Linked DNA regions of Homo sapiens. Each later gene encodes a partner of the first gene's protein in a complex. Each region holds a gene or a part of one and is shown in the gene's direction. Other genes may lie near its edges.

Evidence for each region.
Region 2: the proteins of ARL15 (region 1) and CNNM2 are in contact, whole or in part, in a crystal structure (PDB 8F6D), measured with the Homo sapiens proteins. Residues at the interface, in NP_061960.1 of Homo sapiens: Tyr92, Ser94, Arg95, Gln98, Gln128, His129, Pro130, Gln131, Cys133; in NP_060119.3 of Homo sapiens: Asn490, Val492, Pro521, Leu522, His523, Phe524, Val525, Phe526, Thr529, Glu537, Lys542, Ser543, Gln549.

What each region holds. Positions count from the first base shown.
Region 1 is NC_000005.10:54,166,261-54,177,033, reverse strand, and holds part of ARL15 (ADP-ribosylation factor-like protein 15), read left to right. Parts: intron 1-5,105; coding exon 5,106-5,250; intron 5,251-10,773.
Region 2 is NC_000010.11:102,919,651-102,930,423, forward strand, and holds part of CNNM2 (metal transporter CNNM2), read left to right. Parts: coding exon 1-451; intron 452-7,694; coding exon of another isoform or gene 7,695-7,732; exon of another isoform or gene 7,733-7,968; intron 7,969-10,773.

The sequences.
Region 1 (10,773 bases):
GTTCTCTATTTGCTGCTACCAGGGGAGTGGGGACAGGTTGTGTGTGTTTAGTGTCTTGGGCTGAACTGGGATAGAATGGAGCATGTGGAGGCTGCTGTGGGCTGTTGGAAGTACTACAGTCTGGGCTGTATATTGGGTGGCCAGGCCCTTGTCTAAGGAAGCTAACTGTCACTTAAGATACCTTGGAAAAATGAAAATCGCAATGAGCAGTTATTTACCTGTATGGCGCCTTTCTTAGTAGCATGATGTATTGCACCCAGGCCTCATAACATCCTCCTGAAGAAAGGAAGCGGCAGAGAGTGTTAAAATGTTACTGGTTAATCGTGGGGAAACTGAAGCATGGATAGGTTTATGAGGCTTGAACAGAGTTACACAATGCCTTAGTGTTTGGCCTGGGAATGAGGCCTGAGTTTGCCGCTTGCTGTCAGGACTGCCGACAGCATTGTGTTTCGCATTGTACAACAGTGAAAGGGGCTTACTCTTAACAATGCAAGAGCTGCTGTAGGAGACACACACAATGAACTTTGGTACAGTATAGTCTAGAGGCCAAAATGAGTAATTTTAAGTAAATTGACTATAGGATCCAAAGCTTCATTAAGTTTTAAAACAAAAAACAAATGAAAACTCTTTACAGTTTTTAGGAACTGACTCAGAAAACATGACCATTCCTTCCCCATTGGAAGTAGCATACTGTTGAAAGTTTTATCTTGTTGACTCAAAATCTGACACTATTCCTGTTACCCATAGGATGATTTATTCAGTCAGTTCAAATACATGTTGATTTCTAAGAGTCTGTGATTTATGTCAAAGATTTTGCCTTGTAATAACTATCAATCTAGCCATTAAGTTCCAAAGAACCTTATTTCCACAGCCTGTGGTTTTGTGGGGAGGCTTTTGTTTTATTCAGTTTTGGTTTGGGTTCTTATAGAACAGCTGGAACTATAGAGCCTGGACTTAGAGAAAGAGCTTGGGGAGACGGAGGGGGAGATGTCATGTTGGATGTCCTTATGACATTCGGTTATATGATTGAAACCATGGGACTGGAGATGATATCACTGGTGAGAATATAAAAAGGGAAGAGAGACCAGGCTCAGTGGCTCACGTGTGTAATCTCAGCACTTTGGGCAGCCGGGGTGAGTGGATCACCTGAGCTCAGGAGATGGAGACCAGCCTGAGCAACATGGTGAAACCCCATCTCTACAAAGATACAAAAATTAGCTGGGTGTGGTGGTGCACACTTGTAATCCCAGCTACTCGGGAGGCTGAGGTGGGAGGATTGCTTGAGCCTGGGATTTGGAGGTTGCAGTGAGTGGAGATTGCACCACTGCACTCCAGCCTGAGTGACAGAGACAGACTGTCTTAAAAAAAAAAAAAAGAGAGAAAAAGAAAGAGAAGAGAAGGCTGGGCATGGTGGCTCACACCTGTAATCCCAGCACTTTGGGAGGCTGAGGTGAGTGGATCACCTGAAGTCGAGAGTTCAAGACCAGCCTGGCCAACATGGTGAAACCCCGTCTCTACTAAAAATACAAAAATTAGCTGGGTGTGGTGGCGCATACCTGTAATCCCAGCTACTCAGGAAGCCGAGGCACGAGAATCACTTGAACCCGGGAGGTGGAGGTTGCTGTGAGCCGAGATTGTGCCATTGCACTCCAGCCCGGGCAACAAGAGTGAAACTCTGTCTGAAAAAAAAAAAAGAAAGAAAGAAAGAAGAGAAAAGACAGTGGAGTAGAATATCACTGCTATCATTGCAAAATCATCTTTTATGTCAGAAGTGGCTTAGGTGACCTAGAATAAACAGGTAAAATAGATATTAATGGAGTTGGCTACAAAGTTTTTCTACTCTGGATTTTAAAAAGAACATGAAGATGAAATTCTGGAGTGTTTGGCAAAAATATGAGTGATAACGACATGAATAATTTAAACCGGATGCTCTAGCAATCATTCACATACAGTTTCATTTGATATTTAAGGTTTATGATAGTTTGGGCCAGGGTAGTCAGGCCAGCCCTCCTCCAGGAGATAGTCCAGAGGAATTCTGGCAAGGAGCTGAGTGAGAATGAAGGCCTCTAGGGCAGGAATGGGATCTCTCCTCCTTGAACCCCAAACAAGACCAACGCAGCCCAGTAAAAGAAACTGTGTGACTAGTTTTGTTGTCTGTCCTAATTGAATGTGGAAGACCACTTCTAAGTCTGAACAGCTGCTAGCCATGGCCATCTTTGAGGGAACAGACACATACACAAATAAACCTATCTCTGAGAAAAACTCTCATTCTGAGTCTGGGAGACAGACTTTATAAAAAAGCTTGTTAAAGTCAGACAGTATCAGCCAGCCTTCATATGAATCCATGAAGTGATGTGTTGGCGTTTAGAATGCTGTTAGTAGTTATGGTCATTAATCTTGTGGGAGAGGGTGTGCTGGAACTAAAGGAAGATCAGAGAAGAACATCTCATAGGATGAAGACAGACTGAAATAAGTAGGACTCCTCAGGCTTGAAAAGACTGAGAGGAAATACAATTAGCATGAATAAACCCATGAAGAATATGGGTCATAGAATTGTTTACCAGAAGCAGGCAGAACCTCTTGAGAACAGAGGAAAAGTGAATTTAGGACAAAAAGAAGCTCTAATTTACCAAGAAAGTTGATCCTGTACACCAAAACCACTCTTTTGGGAACTAGGCTAACTAATGGCATTGAAGCGAAGTGAAAAAGTCAGCGGTTTCTTATTTTGACAGTATTTTCTTGAAGCGTGGAGGGCTCAGAGAACATAGATCAAGCATCCTGTTAGTCTCTATGTTTTCTTTTTTCTTTGCTTAGGTAAAATTTAAGTGTCGTTCATTCTTCATTCAACAATTATCTGCTGAGGGTAGATTCTATGCCATGTTCTCTGCTAGACACTGGGAGTACTGAGATGAAGGGGGACAGACATGGTTCTCACAGGCTGGTGATGAATAAGAAACTGCAATTGTCTGTGTAATGAATTTATAAAAGCCCAGTAGAGCTGGACGTGAATTGCTAACACAATCTTAGGATTGGAGCAGACTGCCCTGAGGATGGGATGATTAAGTTGAGACCTAAAAATGATGAGGTGTTGGCTAAGTCCAGAATTGGGGGAAGAAGGAACAGCATATTAGATGCCTCAGTTGAGGTAAGAGAGGGCATGGCTGGAGGATGTAGGGGAGTGAGGGCAATGAGGCTGGTGAGCTTGGCTGGAGCAGATCATGGAGTGTGGGGTAGACCATGGTAAGGGTTTGGGCTCGAGAGCTGGGCAAAGTCACTGGGGTGGCTTAAGCACGTATGGTCAGATTTTCTCTTTATAAGCAATCCAGTCACTGCAATGTGGAGAATAGGGGGCACAAGAGCAAATATACTGGAACTAGTGGGAGGATATTGATGTTGTTCAGGTGATGATGGCCTGGGCTGGACAGAAGTGGACAGATCCTAGAGCTACTTCAGAGGTCATATGAACTAGATTTGTTGATTAGATGTGAGAAATGAGGGAGAGAAATAATCAAGTTTGATTTACGAGAGTATGACAGCCAATTAGTACTCAGATTTTATCTGAGTGAGATGAATCAACACAGGCTTTTTTATAGGTCTCTTCTCTCGTAATCTCCAGATGACCCAAAAGTGAGTGGATCTGCCTTCTTTCCTCCCTGTCTCCCCCTTTCCCTCTTTCTCTCATGAATCATTCAGGGTCTAAATGTTTCAGGCTCTATAAGCTGGCACATAGTTGGCCCCTATGGATATGGGATAAGTAGAAAGATCAAAAGCTGCACAAATGATACCCTGTCTCCCAAATCCTCTTGTTTTTCTTTCTTTCTTTCTTTTCTTTTCTTTTTTTTTTTTTTCTGAGATGGAGTCTCGCTCTTTTTGCCCAGGCTGGAGTGCAATAGTGTGACCTTGGCTCACTGCAACCTCTGCCACCCAGATTCAAGTGATTCTCCTGCCTCAGTCCCCTGAGTAGCTGGAATTACAGGTGCCTGCCACCATGCCTGGCTAATTTCTTTTTGTATTTTTAGTACAGACTGGGTTTCACCACATTGGCCAGACTGGTCCCAAAGTGCTGGGATTACAGGCCTGAGCCACTGTGCCTGGCCCAGATCCCCTTGTCTTTAACTCTTGCAGAGCAAACTATACTACAGTTCATAGTACCCTGGTTGATTGACCTGAAAAAGAATTTAGCAAAGGCCAGAAAGGCAGTGGTATGTATAGAGACTCTATTTAATGATTTTAAAAATTTTTGTATTTTGAAATAATATCAGTGGTAAGACCAGAACAAGGAGTTTTCCTCTATTCTCTTTACTCAGCATCACTAGTCATTAACATTTTGCCATGTTGGCTTTGTCACTCTCCTCACCAGATAAAGATGGAGCTGGAGATTTAGATTTTTCTGAGCCAGTTAATTGTGGACATCAAGACCCTTCACCTCTAAATACTTAGAGGTATTATAAATAATTAGAATATTTTCTCAGAACAATGATTTTTCTTACATAACCACAGTACATTGATTAAATTCAGGAAATTTAACCTTATACAGTACTCTTATCTAATATGCAGTCTATATTCAGTGTTCACTTATTGTCTCAATAATGTCATTTATGGCTTTTTTTTTCCCCTTTTGATCTAGGATCCAGTCCAAGATATATTGCATTTTATTATTATGTCTTTTTAGTCTTCTTTAACATGGAACAGTTCCTCAGTCTTTCTTTGACTTTTAAGACATTGATATTTTGGAGGAGAACAGGCCAGTTGCCTTATGGAATACTCCTTAGATTGGCTTTATCTGGTTTCCTCATGCTTAGATTCAGATTGTGTGGTTTTGGCAGGCAAGCTGTGGGATGATGTCATGCTTTTTGCAGTGCACCTGCCATAGCAGGAAGGGAGGCATGAAGTAGAAAAACATTTCATAACTAAGAATGTTAACTTTGATCACTTGGCTAGAGTGGTGTCTCCAGGTTTCACTGTTCTAAAGTTACCGTTTTCTTCCTTATAGGTAATACTTTATTCAATTACCTCTTAATACTTACTCAGTCATTTTAAATGTGACTATGGTTTATTTCCATACTGTCATTTAAAGGAACATTTTTTTCCCCTTCTTTTGGCAGTGTTTTAGAGCACTTTGCTGCAAGGGACCACCACCTGCACGACCAGAATATGACCTGGTTTGCATAGGCCTCACAGGTTCTGGCAAAACCAGTCTGTTGTCCAAACTCTGCAGTGAAAGCCCCGATAACGTCGTGTCGACCACAGGTGGGTACTGTGCTGGGGTTCTGTCCCTTCTTCTTTCTCATCCCAAGATGTCCTAGTTTCCTGTGCAATTTATCCCCTCCCTTCTACTTATAGTTTAATGCTTTAATCAGTTTATTTTAATTTTAAACACTATCTCTTTTTCAAAAAAGATTTGAAATGAATTTAATAGCATTAAATTGCTGTATCCTATATCCCTCTAGCAGGTCATTTCAGTGGCACTGAATAAATGAAGCTTGGGAAAATATTAATACAAATGAATCCTGAAATCTGGAACTCTGATATATGACAAAATGGATTCATCTTGGGCCCATAGAGTACTTTCCTTCCTTGAAGTGTCACTCCAGCCTATGTTTCTTGGCCACACACTCCCTGAATAGTAAACTGATGTAGTCTGAATCTTCTTTCCTTGTCATTTTTCACCTGGAGGAAAGTCAGTGCAAGAGATCATGCATCAGCCTTCCCCTATTGCTTCCTGATGGAGCCAAGCAAAGTCAGTCTAGGGCAGTGGTTCTCAATCAGGGGAGATTATGCCTCTGAGTGGGACATTTTGGAGTCATTTGTGGGGAGGGGTATTACTGGCTTCTGGTGGATAGAGGCCAGTGGTGCTACTAAACATCCTTCAATGTACAGGGCAGCCCCCACAGCAAAGAGTTATCAGGCCCAAAATGTTTTCAGTGTCAAGTTATTAGTGAGAAATCCTGGCTAGGGTTTTTCTTCACTTCCCAAATGTGTCCTCTTTCTCTTCTGACAATGAAGAAGGAAAGAAGAGTATAAGAGGAAATAATGGAAGAACAGCTGTAAGAGATAGAGAACAGAGCTGCTGTGCAGAGAGAGCTGAGAAGGAAGGAGAAGGGTGAGATGTTTTCTGGAAAGTTGAAAAGATTGTTCATCAGCCAGCTTATTTTGAGCACCTACTATGTGCTAGGTCCAGTGTTAGACATGAGATAAGCGATGATTTCAGCATTCCAGGAGTCTCAGTATACTGGCTGCATAAACATTAAGTTCATATCCAGAAATAGATGGGGCATGGAAGGAAGGGGCATGACAGTGTTGCCTGGACCTGGGGAAGGGAAGGATGCATGATTTGGTTTGCTACATTAGATTTGAGGTTGATAAGTAGGTCTGGTACAAGAAATAAGGTGAGGGGGTGGAAAAGAAAGAGGACTTAGGAGCAGAGGGGCAGTGTGAAGGTAAGGAGTGTCAAACAGATTGGCAACTCCTAGAAACTGCATTTGTGTGTGGCTGCAGTGTATGTTTAATAGAGTGCCAGGAGACAAATTGTATTCAGTGGTGGCTGAATCTTAGCAGACCTTTCATACTGTGCTCAGGAGTTTGGGCTTTTCGTGTAGATAGTGCAGAGACATCAGAGTATTTTAAGCAAGGAAACTACATGATCAGATGTCCATTTGAGAAGAATCAAGCTGGCCATGATGTGGAGGCTAAATTGTGAGTAGCGCAGTTGGAGGCGGAGGCAGAAGATTACTGTGATGGTGCAACTGAGATGATGAAGGCCTTGGCTGAGGCAGTTACAGGGGGAAGAAGAGGAAGGAATAGGTAGGATATATATTTGAGAGCTAGAATTGACAAAGCCTAGTGTAGTTGGGTTTGGAGGGTGAGAGTGAGAAAGCCATGGCTGTCTCAATTCCTGGCTTACGTGATGGTTGGATGATGGAATTATTAACTAGGATTTCCTACAAAAAGTAGAAAGGATATTGTTGATCAAGAACCTTACTTCAGTTCACGTCAGCTTTTGCCGGCAAGTAAGTTTTAAAAAAGTGCAGGTTTTGAGAGCTTTTCAGATTTTAGAATTGAGATAAGAAACTGTGGAGCTGTTAAAGGGTTAGAGACATTGCTTGATTTTAGGATGAGGGAAAGGATAAGGGGATTGTAATGAGTAGAGACCCCAGAGAAGATTAGCAGAGCTCATGTGTAGCCTCTTTGCAGGAAGCTGTTTCTGACTACCTTCTTTTCTCCTTGGACAGAACTGAGTACTCCCTCCTCTCCCCACTGGGCGTTGTCCGTATTTCTCCCAGTTAGTGCCTGTAGCACTGCTTTATGTATGTGCCCATCTCCCCATCTTGGGTTAGAATCTCTTAAGGGCAGCTAGAGCATCATATGTGGTATTGTATACCCAGAGTCTGTCACAAGGTTTAGGCATGGATACAGATGTCTGTTAATAAGCAAATGAAAGTAAATTGAATCTATATAGTCTTCTGTTAGCCTTATAACAGCCCTTATATGACAGGTAGGAATCTTTTTCCATATTCTGTTTCTAAATTACCTGAAGATCAAAGGTATGGTGACATGGCTATTGTTACATAGCTAGAGATAGGATGCCAGTTCAGGTGTTCAAGTGAAGTTTAGTGGTATCCAAGGTTTAGGATTTCTGGTGGAAGTAGGTACTTTATTGGTTGTTTATAAAACTGTGAATATCTTTTGAGTAATGTGCAATGAAGTTATATAAACTTTATTAGCTTAAGTCTTTTCAATCAAAATAGCTTCTAAAATATGTGTAAGAGTAACACAAAGTATGCTTTTCTTCACTTATCAGAGTTATCTTCTAGCACTATTGCTAGAGGAGCAGTTTTGAATTATAGTGTAAAAGATTATCTGTATATAATTTTCTTACTTGTAAGTTATGTTTTGTGTTTGTTTTTATGAAATTTTTTAATAATACGTTTTACCAGAATTGTGCACTAGTCTATTTTCTGATGAATTAGTTGTTAGGTTGGCTAATTTTTTGGATATCAAGCTTCTTTGAGTTGTCATTGTTCTGAACCTGGCATAATGTCTTTTTGGAGGCCTCTTTGGAGGAAGCTGCCATCAAGAAGTTTACACCCAGGTTAGGAAGATAAGTTGTGTATTGATAAAAACAGTTCACATATATTGCTTATTTAATATACTCCAGGCTCTGTGCTAAGACAGAATGTGATATGTGTTATATTAATGGTGTAAATATGAAAGTTAAAAGAGGAGAGTGATCATTTCTAATCTGGAGGGTCAAAGAAAGCTCATAGTTAAGGTTACATTTGAGTAGGGTCTCATATGATGGGTAAGGTCTAAGCAGAGAGGAATGGGGTGAGGAGAGTTAGGGATAGAAAGCATAGGTATATTCAGAGAAAGATTAGTGGTCTTACTGGGTTAAGGCACAGCATGCAGAGATTTAGGGGATGTTGGGATCTAAGGCTAGAGACTTAGAGAAGCTGTTGGGGGAGACCTGTTAGATGTAGAGGTGATCCAGCAGGGACAATACTTGTGGGGATGTTACTGCTACTGTAAAAGTGACAGTTATGCTGGGTATTCAAGAGGAAAGGAAGATAAAACAATCAAATATGAGTCAAGTTTATAGCTTTATGTTTTGGTGAATTGTTAAAAAAAAAAAAAGTAGGGAGAATGTGACAGAGTTTTAAGATAAAAATAATGAGTTTAGTTTGGGGCATGCTGATTTTGAGGTTTGACAAGACATCCAACAGTGATCCAAATGCTAAAAGCCAAGCAGACTAGAGAGATTTGAGAGACAACTCAGTCATAGATTTGGATGAGCTTGTCCAGGGGTAATGGGTAGAAAGCGGGAAGAAAGGTGCTAAGCACCAATTATATTTTGTTAATTCATTCCACATTCATTGAATGTCTGTTATGTGACTGCCACTGATTTAAGGACTGAGGATATATCAGTTAACAAAATATACAAACAACCCTGCTCTTTGGAGCTTACATTACAGCATCTGCTTTTGATAAGGAATATAGGTCAGACAGTTCTATATAATATCCTTTAAGTCAAATATGGGCAAGAAATCAAAAGAACCAGTCAAATAAGGTAAACGTAAGTCTAAAGTCTGAGAAAGGCCATTGGATGTGGTGACAACGTGGTAATTAATAACTAATGGTAGAAACAGTTTCAGTAGAGTATTGAGGTGGAAACCAACCTGAGAATTGAGGGGATGAAGAGCAAGCAAAGGAATTGAGGGGTAGACCATCGTTTTCACTCCTTAACTCTTTGGAATATAGACAGTTCTTTCAAGAAGGTGGACAGAAAAAGAGAAAATAGTGCTAAGAGAATTTGTTTCTATAAGAAAAGGTCTCTTGAGCATGCTAGTAGTCAGAGGTTTAGGGTGGTCATCAGGGGAAAAGGCAAGACTGAATATGCTCAAGAGAGGGCAGTGAGCACAAGGATGAGTGAGGACTTCTTGTTCTGGTAAGATGGAATAACTGGAACTAGTTTACTCTCCCATCTAAAAGAAGAAGAACAACAACAGCAACCAGCTCATGAAATATACAAAGCAACAATTTTCAAGCCAGGAAACGCAGTTATCCCTGAGAAATGAGAAACAAATGAGATGTGCTCTGTGATTGTCCCAGCTTAATGCCTTGAGAGTTTCCAGGCTGTGGCACAGTTCCAGAGGGAGCTGAGGTGGAGCTCAGTGAACTCCCTGCATTGAGGAGATGAAGCCGAGAGCAAGGGGAGACCAAGATGGCTAATGTTCATAGAATAGAATACCAGAGAAAAGAGTTGTACAGAGAGAGAACACTAAAGATTTTCAGAGTCTCCCTTGAGTATCCAGCAAAATATTCAATGCATGCATGTGAGGAAACTTCCCAAGGCCAGGGCAAGAACCATCTTAAAGGACTAGAGGGAACAGTGGTTGGTGTTCATACAGGGTTGAAAACTATGCCTGTAATCACCAGATGGACTGAAAAACTTATAACTCACAAGGAACTGGGTAGAGTACTTGGCAAGGTCAGCCGTAAGTGGAGTACCACTCTGGACTCACATGACAGATAATATTAGCAAGTCCCAAAACCTCAGATGGTTGTCTGGTAATGTAATGCATCTCAGCACAAAGCTGTATAGGATTTAAAGAAAAAATATTCATCACTCAACAAGGTAAAATTCACAATGTCTGCCAGTCAGTCAAAGATTATCAGGGATGGGAAGAGGCCAGAAATCATGATTCATAATGAGAATAATCATCGAATTGGAACTGACCCAGAACTGATGTAAATATTAGAAGTAGCAAAGGGGGACATTAAAACTGTTATTATCACTGTATTGTATCTGTTCATAGAGACAATCTGAGAGAGAAAAAAATGCAAAGAGCATCCAGCGAGCTATGGGACAACTTTAAACCTAAGCTAGGGTAATTTGAGTCCATGAAGGTGAGTGGAAAGGGACAGAAAAATATTTGAAGAAATAATGGCTGAAACATTGTTGAACATGAAGAAAACTCTACACCTACAGATCCAAGAAGCTCACTGAACCCCAAACAAAAGGAACATGAGCAAGGCTGGGCACAGTGGCTCACACTTGTAATCCCAATACTTTGAGAAGCTGAGGCGGAAGTATCACTTGAGGCCAGGAATTTGACACCAGCTTGGGCAACATAGTAAGACCCCCATCTCTACAAATAAATAAATAAATAAATTAGCTGCATGTGTTGGTGCTTGCCTGTAGTCCCAGCTACTTGTGAGGCAGAAGTAGGAGGATTGCTTGATCCCAGGAGTTTGAGGCTGCAATGAGCTGTG
Region 2 (10,773 bases), on another chromosome or scaffold:
TACCCGGTCAGCAAGCTGCTGGACTGCGTCCTGGGCCAGGAGATAGGCACCGTCTATAACCGGGAAAAACTGCTGGAGATGCTCCGGGTCACCGATCCCTACAACGACCTCGTTAAGGAGGAGCTGAACATCATCCAAGGGGCGCTGGAGCTCCGCACCAAGACGGTGGAGGACGTGATGACCCCACTCCGGGACTGCTTCATGATCACCGGCGAAGCCATCCTGGACTTCAACACCATGTCTGAGATCATGGAGAGCGGCTACACCCGCATTCCAGTGTTTGAAGGGGAGCGCTCCAATATCGTGGACCTGCTGTTTGTCAAAGACTTGGCCTTCGTGGATCCCGATGACTGTACCCCCCTGAAAACCATCACCAAATTTTATAACCACCCCTTGCACTTTGTTTTCAATGACACCAAGTTGGACGCTATGCTGGAAGAATTTAAGAAAGGTGGGAAATTTTGGTCTCTTTCATTGGCTTGCTCTTTCTCTCTCCATCCTCCTCCCTACTTGAGTCCTCTACCCTCAGACCAACCCCCCAAGGCGAGTTGACCGGGATTTCTCCTTCTCCCTCTTAATTGCAAAGTTGAAAGGGTGGCGTGGATTTGGGGATGGATTGAACTAGTAAGTGCTACTAGGTTATTTTAAAGCACAAGACTGCCATCACTTACTTTTTCCCATTATCAAAAAGCAGGCTGTGTAATTTCTGTGCATGACACTTATTTATTTTTTTTTTTTTGGTCCCGTGTGTGGGCCTCTGTTCTTGAGGGGTCTGCCGCCTTCATTGTCTGGGTTCTCAGTGAGTAGGTGAAGGTAGGGGCTGGCTGATGCCATGCCATTTGGTGGACTTTAATCACAGGCATTTGGAAAACATGTAACTAGCTTTTGTAAACCCAGTGCAGTCCTTTTTCTCCTCCTTAAACATCCACACTGGCCTTTCAAAGATCGAAGTACATTTTCTATAGCTTCTGTTCCTGCTTGCCTGGCAACTTGTGGGGAAGATTGAGGTCTGCCTTTGAGGGTAAGGGGTGGGGTAAACTAAGTATCGCCAAAAAAAATCACCCATTTTGGATGTGACTTCTCTTAGCTAGAAAAGAGTTGTTGTTGTTGTTTTAAATTAAAGTTATTAATATGTAACTTGGAAAGATTAGAGGTTAGCCAGCCTTTTGTGAAGAGGCTGTATGTCCCGTAGCCTTCTTCACTATTTGTTTACATTTATCTGACAACAGTTACAGTTGCCCAAACCAAGTGTGATTTTGGCAGAAAGCTTGAACCTTTAACAGTGGGATGAATCCCTCTATTGGGGCTTATTTATTTCTTGACTCTTTCAGTTTAACGTGTTCTTTTTTTCCACCTTGATCATCCGATACATTAAGTTGAAGTATGTCTCCGTCAACTCTCACCGTTCCAAGATGCTTATACAGTACATCATTTATATTTGTTCGTTTGACCATATAATGAACAGGTAAATAGCAACTTGTACTATTATTATTGAAGTTCTGAATGTTTCCAGTAAATAGTGTTATTTGAAAACCAAGGGATGCTGAGTTTTTGAATTATTAAGATGCTAGGGCATGTGCAGGTATTGAAATGTGTATGTAACCTTTCGTGACCTGATAGTCCTCAAAACCAAGTTTCCCTTCTTCAAATAGAATTTTGATCACTGGTAGTAGTCTCTCCTCTGAAAAAGGTGATATGTACCTGGTGACAGCTCACTGGATGTGATGATCTGAACATACTCAAAGAGTGTATGGTTGTCCTAATGCCATTTTTCTGGTTGAATGATGTCCTCTCTAGAACAGGATCACATTGTAGTAAGTTTTATGTAAAGGAACAGGGCAGAATGTGCTTTGAAGATTGGTAAATTTGCATTTAAAAGCAGAAGGAGGTTCTTCTGGTTTCTTAAATAGTAAAAAGAAAATGTCCAGTATCTCTAGGTGACATAGCTTCTTTTGGGGGTGTCATTCTTTCACCACTAAGTTGTTAATTAGAGCATCTAACTTCTTTCATTTTGCAGTAATATCTGTAATACAGAAAGATATATTGGGATGTTTGGAAATGCCCCTGAAAGTCTTTCTATTGCTAAATTTCCCAATATTGATACAGATGATCTATTGCATGAGTTTTTTATTACTTAGAATTTTGCACATTTACTCATGAATTGATAACACTAGTTTGTACTTCTTGCTGAAGTCTTTTCTTCACTTCTATATCTTTTTACCTTGAGAATTTAGTTTTTCACCTCACAGCTCCTTAATGCCGCCCTTACTCAAAATTTCAAAATTCGTATTATTTTGAAATTTGTGCTTGATTGACCTTGAACAATTTTTCTATGATGGATTTATTTTCATGAGGAGCTGTTTTTCCTTCAGAATTACCACTCAGTATTTTTTTGAAATGTATTCTTTAAATGATGGAATTACTAATATTTCCCTATGAATTCTAGAAAAATAATAATGCACAAGATTTAATTTTTGTCTTTAACTAGAATGATGTATTTGGTTAAGAAGATAGTCCAAGTTAAAGGCATACATTCAAGCTAGTGGCATATTCGGAAGAGCAGGCAAAGATAGTTGGTTGCAAATGGGAAATTTAAGCCATGATCTTAAAAGGACAGAATGGATATTTGTTACTTAAACTATGGGAATAATTGATTTTTTCACCTTCCCTTTCTTGGATTTTTTTTTTATTATCAGTTTGGTTACTTTAACCTTACTGTCAGTTATATTGGTTCTTTTTTTTATGTCTGAGTTAAAACATTTTACCTGATTTTCATGTCTTCATTTTCTAAATCAATTATGACAGTGTTAACAATCAACCTTTTATTTTTCTCTACTGAATAACGGCGTATTAAATGGTTTGAAGACTTTTTCTTCCTCTACCTCTCTCCTAAATTCCTCATTTACAAAAGAAAACCCAAAACAAAACAAACAACCCCAACAATACCAATTGTAACTCCCCAGACCAGTTAGATCATAGATCCAGATCTCATTGAAAATTATCCTTTTGGCTAGGCATGGTGGCTCATGCCCGTAATCCCAGCACTTTGGGAGGCCAAGGTGGGCAGATGGCTTGAGCCCAAGAGTTTGAGACTAGCCTGGGCTACCTGGTGACACCCCGTGCCTACAAAAAATACAAAAATTAGCTGGGCGTGGTGGTGTGTGCCTGTGGTCCCAGCTCCTTGGGAGGCCTGAGGTGGGAGGATTCCTTGAGCCTGGGAGGCGGAGATTGCAATGAGCTGAGATGGTGCCATTGCACTACAGCCTTGGGGACAAAGACCCTGTCTCAAAAAAAAAAAAAAAAAAGAAACAAAATTGTCCTTCCTAGTTAAGAACTTCTGTATTGAAGACTTTCCTGTATATAGCTGTAGAGAATTAGTCTGAGTTGTTCTTTATTAAAGAGGAGGAAATAGAATGTTCTGAATGTGGGAAGAAAAGCCACCTTTATATTAGTATATGTGAATGTCTTCTTTCTTCTTCCTTTTTTTTTTCCCCAAGAGACAAGGTCTCACTGTGTTGCCCAGGCTGGATTCGAACTGTGATTGTCTTTTTTCTCTGGCTACCAGGAAACTCTTGGCTTTATTTGAGACAGTAATTGTGCTGATTTTACAGTTTGATCATGATGATGGTGATGATTATTACTTACCTATGTATTCTGTGCCAGGTACAGGGGCTGGGGCTTTATATGAATCACCTTGTTTAAATCTCAAATGGCTGAATGAAGTATTATCTCCATTTTACAAATGAGGAAATTGACTTGGGTGAAATGATTTGTTCAAGGTCACACAGTAATTTGTGCCTTGGGGTTTTAACTTAGGTCTTTGTGACACCAGAACCTGCTCTCTTAACCTCTCTCTTATGCTGCTCTCCTTGATCCTGGTTTGACATTTCTATTTTACTGAGTGTGAGGTTTAGTCTTTTGTCTCAACACTGCCTCAGAGCCTGTTGGGCAATAGAAAAGAAATGTGTTTAAACATATATATGGCTTTAAACCCAGTGCTTCTGTGGTGTTGTGCATAACAACTGGTGTCCCCTTTTTTGCCATTAAAACAGTTTTTTGGCCTGTGTGATCCTAAGTCTAAAGAATTGTGTTGACAGCATTTGCATATCCAGCATCAAGATTCATTTTGGAAAGTTTTGTACTAACAATGTGCTGTACTAATGTGCTTCTTCCATGGGCTGCTCTACAGCTGTTTTTCCCATAGCTAAATTATGTAATCATGTTTCACTATTGGTTTCTTATCTGTTTCTGTTGCAAGGGTCACATAGTAATTGGTCAAACTCAGTTTTGTGTTTTAATCTTGGTTTTTATTTACATTTTTGAATCTATCTGTATAACTGGTTGCTAATGAGCATCCTTTACACAACTCTGCTCTCTGTATTCCATGCAAGGAACCTTTCTCTTTTTTTGTGTGTGTTAGTTTTGTAGTTACTTACAAGTCTAAATAAGAGAATAAATTCAGTAAATACCGCTAGAGGATTATGAGAATTTTAGAAAAACTAGAGCAATGTAGTGTAGGGGAAGGAAAAGCAAAATGAAAGGCTGCCACCTTTGTGTGTGGAAAGCATGTTAGAGGCTCTCCATTCACCTGACAAAACCGTCCTCACAAAAGATTGGGCCACCAAGTTGTCTATGCTGAGGTGCATTTGAAGAATTTGTAACCAGTTACTGTTTCATTGTTTTTCTTTTAGCTTTATAACAGTTGCATTCCAGTATTGCAGAGCATGCTATTTACAGCTGCTAGGGACTTAGCCAGCCTCTTTTCTAGCTTTTTCTTAGTAACAGGTGGGATCACCAGATAATGTTGTTCTTCAAGGAAAGAATGCACTGTACAGTTTTCACCTAAGATATTAGGTAATTTCTTTCTATAACTCAGCAAATCTCTCCATATTAATATACTGAGAGCTTAATATTAAACACATTTTTTTCTCACCAAATTAAGTGTTGTATTTGCCTTGAATCTAGGAAGTTGTTTTTTTTTTTTTAATTATTTTATACGTATTTGTTAGGGTCTTGCTATGTTGCCCAGGCCTGGTCTTGAACTCCTGGCCTCAAGCAATCCTCCCATCTGAGCCTTCCAAGGTGCTGGGATTACAGGTGCATGCCACCATGCCTGGCCAGAAGATGTTTTTATTAGTGTTTAAAGGTATGAATGGTGTCACCGGGAGCTGATATATTTGTTTTCATGATGTTGTACATTTATTTTTGTGCAGTAACATACATTAAATGATTGTAATTTTGTGTGTTTTTAGAACACTATTATGAAATATCCAGATAATACAGAATCAGAGCTGGAAGGCAGGCAGCTTGAGGATTATCTAGTCCAGTGTTTGCCAGATTTACCTGATGATAAGATTTACTTGGGGCTGGGTGCGGTGGCTCACGCCTGTAATCCAGGCACTTTGGGAGGCTGAGACGGGTGGATCACCTGAGGAAGGGAATTCAAGACCAGCCTGACCAACATGGAGAGACCTTGTCTCTGCTGAAAATACAAAATTAGCCGGGCATGGTGGCACATGCCTGTAATCCCAACTACTCGGGAGGCTGAGGCAGGAGGATTGCTTGAACCCGGGAGGCGGAGGCTGTGGTGAACTGAGATCGCACCATTGCATTCCAGCCTGGGCAACAAGAGCGAAACTCCATCTCAAAAAAAAAAAAAAAAAAAAAAAAAAAAAAGATTTACTTGGGTCACTTAATAAGAGTAAGGTCTTAGGCCTCACCCAGAGACCTCTGAATTGGGAAAGAGCTTTTGGAATCCATGTCGTTTACAGTTTCCCTGGGGTACTTCTTATGGTTAGGTGAGTTTAGGAAAAACTGGTCTAGTCAGCCCCTTGATTAAGGAAAGTAAACCCTGAGAAAGAGAAAAAACAAAGTAAATGACCTATTTAGGGCCACCTACCTAGCTAGTAGCATCAACTGAACTAGATCCCATGTCCCTGACTTCTAGATTGGAGTTCTTCCTGCTCCAGCAGGCTGGTCTTCTGGTCCCAAGTTATTCAGAGATGAAGGTAGCAGCATCATTGAAAAAACAAATAGTGAGTGTTACCGTTGGTTTTTATTGGTCTCGTGATTTTCCTGTCAATATGTTAGATGCCCTGGATTCAAGCAATTTTTGACAAGCATTTTATTATATAGAAAATAAGTCCAAGTGTGTGAGCTCATTTTTATTTAATTTTATGTTTTATTTTTATCTTAGTTTAACTGAGTTTTTTACTTTGTTGTGGTTAGACTAGGAGGGTATTTTAGGAAATGAGTGTTGATACCTAGGTTATTTGAAGCCTCAGGTAATTAAATATAAGATGTTTTATTTGACTTAGCTTATTTTGGATATCCTTTAATGATTTGTTTTCTCATTGATTATTTCTTCTGTGAGAGTAATGATGATTGGATTTGGTTAGGACTGTGGGGGTGAAGCTTCCTTGACTTTTCATTTCTGTTCACAGTACATACAGATCTGTAAAATTTCCATGGAAATGTTCATCAAAGCATTTGAAGCCCATGTCCTATTCGTGCATTTGTGTACCCTCTGTACCACACACCTCCCAAGTTTTAACAAATAATATAAGTGAAATTCTCACAGAGAATCATGCTGATTTGTAGAAGTTATTGCGTTACTAGGATCACCGAAGTCTGAGCATAGACATTTAGGTGAGGAGAGACCCTAGTTAAATACCAGCCCTGACTAAGTAGGAGCTGGATGAAGCGGGAAAGGAACTTGTCTGCGTTTTCTCTTGGTTTTTATGGGGATTACACACTATCTTTCCTGAAGCATTCTTAACCATTGTGAGGGGCTGGTTAATTTTAATTATTAGCAAATCTAAACACAATTTAAAATATCATCAACCAAGAAAACCCACAAAACAGACTGAACTGTTCTGTGGGTTTTCCTGCTTTTACTTATTTATTTTCAAAACAGGGTCTTGCTCTGTTACCCAGGCTGGAATGCAGTGGTGCTAGCTAGCATAGCTCACTGCAGCCTCGACCTCCCAGGTTCGAGTGATCCTCCCATCTCAGCCTCCAGAGTACCTGGGACCACAGGCGTGTGCCACCACACCCAGCTAATTTTTTTTTTTTTTTTTTTTTGAGATGGAGTCTCGCACTGTTGCCCAGGCTGGAGTGCAGTGGCACGATATCGGCTCACTGCAAGCTCCACCTCCTGGGCTCATGCCATTCTCATGCCTCAGCTTCCCGAGAAGCTGGGATTACAGGCACCCGCTGCCATGCCCGGCTAATTTTTTTTGTATTTTTAGTAGAAACGAGGTCATGCCATGTTGTCCAGGCTGATCTTGAACTCCTGGGCTCAAGTGATCTGCCTTCCTCGGCCTCCTGAAGTGCTGGGATTACAAGCATGAGACACCATGCCTGACCCCTGCTTTTATTTTCAATATAAAATTTTATGTTTACAAGCGTGAGCCACCACACCCAGCCTTACATAAACTTTTAAGAGCAAACCTGTAGAGTGTAATTAGATGCGTAGTTACTTATAAAGTGGTATATATTTTTCAAATGAGCCCTTTTCTCTAAATATATATATATGTGTGTATGTATATGTTATTGACAGTAAACTTTCAATTCATTAAGATTTGCTTGACATATAAAGAGTACTATTAAACTCAAACATGTGGAAGTGGATCACTAGGATTGAATACAGTTTTTTAAAGTATTGTCTTTTCATCTCTTTTTGTTTTTCTCAGAACACACAAACAAGAAACCCAAATCATACCAACACTGAAAAGAAGAGACAATAAGAAGCATTCTTTCTTTCAACATCACAGACATTGGCAACTCTAGGATGTCTATACAGAGGGATAAAAAGGGGTGGCAGTTGGCTGGGCGTGGTGGCTCATGCCTGTAATCCCGGCACTTTGGGAGGCCCAGGGAGGTGGATCACTTGAGGTCAGGAGTTCCAGACTGACAGTCTGGCCACCATGGTGAAACCCCGTTTCTAATAAAAATACAGAAAAATTAGCTGTGCGTGGTGGTGGGTGCTTGAATTCCCAGCTTCTTGGGAGGCTGAGACAGGAGAATCACTTGAACTTAGGTGGCGGAGGTTGCCGTGAGCTGAGATCACGTCACTGGACGACAAAGTGAGACTCTGTCTCAAAAAAAAAGGAGGGGGTGGTGGCAGGCTTTCGAAGGAGGAACTAGAGGTTTGTGGTCTAGCTTAGATGTTGATGGATAATGGGGATGCCAAACCCTCTCCCTGTGTTACATTAGTGCTATGACTGAACATAAACACTGCTGTAATGGACGGTGAGATCTTCGTGTCATCCTATTTAACCCTCCCTTGCTGTCATTCGGAGGTGGGAGTGCTTCTTTTTGAATTCACATGCTGTGGGGAGGATAGCATCTGTTAATGCAAAGGTTAAGAACAATGTGCTCTTCCTGGATCTGTTTTGGACAAGTAACTTATCCTCTTTAACCCTAAGTTTTTTTCAAAGTAAAATGGGGATATTTTCTAACTCATATGGTACTTAGTAAGAATTATTGTACTAATAAATATATAAATGTTTCTAACAGTACCTGGCACTTTGTGCTTAACCAGTATTTTTATTATAACAATTCTTTCTGTAGGCTCTTGGTTGTTATCTTAGTCTGTTTGTGCTGCTGTAACAAAATACCACAGACTGGGTAACTTAAAAATAATAGAAGGTGGCCGGGCATTGTGGCTCATGCTTGTAATCCCTGCACTTTGGGAGGCCGAGGCGGGTGGATCACCTGAGGTAAGATCACCAGCCTGGCCAACATGATGAAACCCTGTCTCTACTAAAAACACAAAAAATTAGCCAGCTGTGGTGGTGGGCGCCTGTAATTCCAGCTACTCAGGAGGCTGAGGGAGGAGAATCTCTTGAACCCATGAGGTGGAGGTTGCAGTGAGCCGGGATTGCGCCACTGCACTCCAGCCTGGGCAACAAGAGTGAAACTCTGTCTCAAAAAAAAAAAAAAAAAGAAATTTATTTCTCAGTTCTAGAGGCTGGGAAGTCCAAGATCAAGACACTGGCACTGGCGTCTGGTGAGAGCCTTCATATGGCATCCTCACATAGCAGAGAAATGGAAGGTGAAAAGGGCCTAAGCTAGTTCCCTCCAGCACTTGTATGAGGCGCTGGTTCAGAGTCCCCATGGCTTAATCACTTCCCCCAAAGGCCCCACCTCTTAATATCACTACTGTGGGGATTAAGTGTCAACATGAAATTTTGAGAGGACGCATTCAAACCATAGCAATTGTTCTTGGTCATTCTCTTGACTGGAGCCTGATAGTCAAGAGAGACATTTTAGCGTGTGTCCTTATAATTATTATTGGTGTTGAAATCTAAAAGTGGCTAGGCTCGCTGGGCGTGGTGGCTCATGCCTGTAATCCCAGCACTTTGGGAGGCCTAGGTGGGTGGATCACTTGAGGTCAGGAGTTCAAGACCAGCATGGCCAACATGGTGAAACCCAGTCTCCACTAAAAATACAAAAATTAGCCGGGCGTGGTGGCATGTGCCTGTAGTCCCAGCTACTTAGGAGGCTGAGGTGGGAGAATTGCTTGAACCCAGGGGGCTGAGGTTGCAGTGAGCCGAGATCATGCCACTGTACTCCGCCTGTGCGACAGAGCGAGACTCTGTCTCAAAACAAGAAAAAAAAGAGTGGCTAGGCTGGGTGCAGTGGCTCATGTCTGTAATCCCAGCACTTTAGGAAGCTTTTAGGAAAGCTGAGGCAGAAGGATTGCTTGAATCTAGGAGTTTGAGGCTGCAATGAGCTGTGATTGTACTACTGCATTCCAGCCTGGGTGACAGAGCAAGAGCATGTCTTTTTTAAAAAAAAAAAAAAAAAGTGACTAGTTATTGTAGGTTTTTTCTTTTCCTTTTTGTTGTGATTGAATCCTAAGCTTTGTTATTTTCCTAGCAGTTGACAAGGTGACTACATGCATATATATTTTTAAGGAAAACAGAACAATTTATTATAGGTTCTACTTTCCTTAGAGTAAGAATACTGTGTTTTAAAATAATTCTTCATTCTCTTTAATCATAAACAACTGAAAAAGACAACAAGTCTTTTGAGTTGTTTATCCGCTCATCCGTTGATAGACATTTAGACAGTTTCCACTTTTTGGCCATTATGATTGGTTATTATGAATAATGCTGCTGTGAACATTGGCATGCATTTTAAAAGCAAGTGCTTGTGGATTTTGGAAGCCCTTGAATAACCAAAGACTTTTAAGACTAAAGGAAGATCAAAAAAGATAAAATATTTTAACACTGATTGCATAAAAAGTATAAAAAATGGTAATGCCTAATATAGCAAGTTTGTATTGCTTATAGCAGTGTAAATTTATAATGATTTTGGAAGGCAACTGGGTGTCATAAAAATGATTTAGTATTTTTTTCCCCTGGAAATCTTAATTCAGTGATCCAAGAGAAGAAAAGAGCTATGTTAGCTTTTTATGTTGTATGTGTGTTGCAGCGTTATCTAGAAACAGTGAAAAATTGGAAGTAAATATCTAACACTTCAAGGCAAGGAGTGGAGGAGAAAGAGTTAAGAAAATTATAAATGTGAACTATTTCCAACCATTCAGTGATAATCTTGAAAGCCACATAGCAATATGGGAAAATTTGCACTGATTATTTGCACGGAATATAGACATGCAAAAAAATATATATATGTATACACTGGAAGGTAACGTGGAAAAAATGAAAATAGTTGATGTATTAGGGTGGGGTGATCATAGCCAGTCTTTGTGAAAATCTCCTTGTTAACTTTGTACATGATATACCTGGAAAAAATTCAAATCTG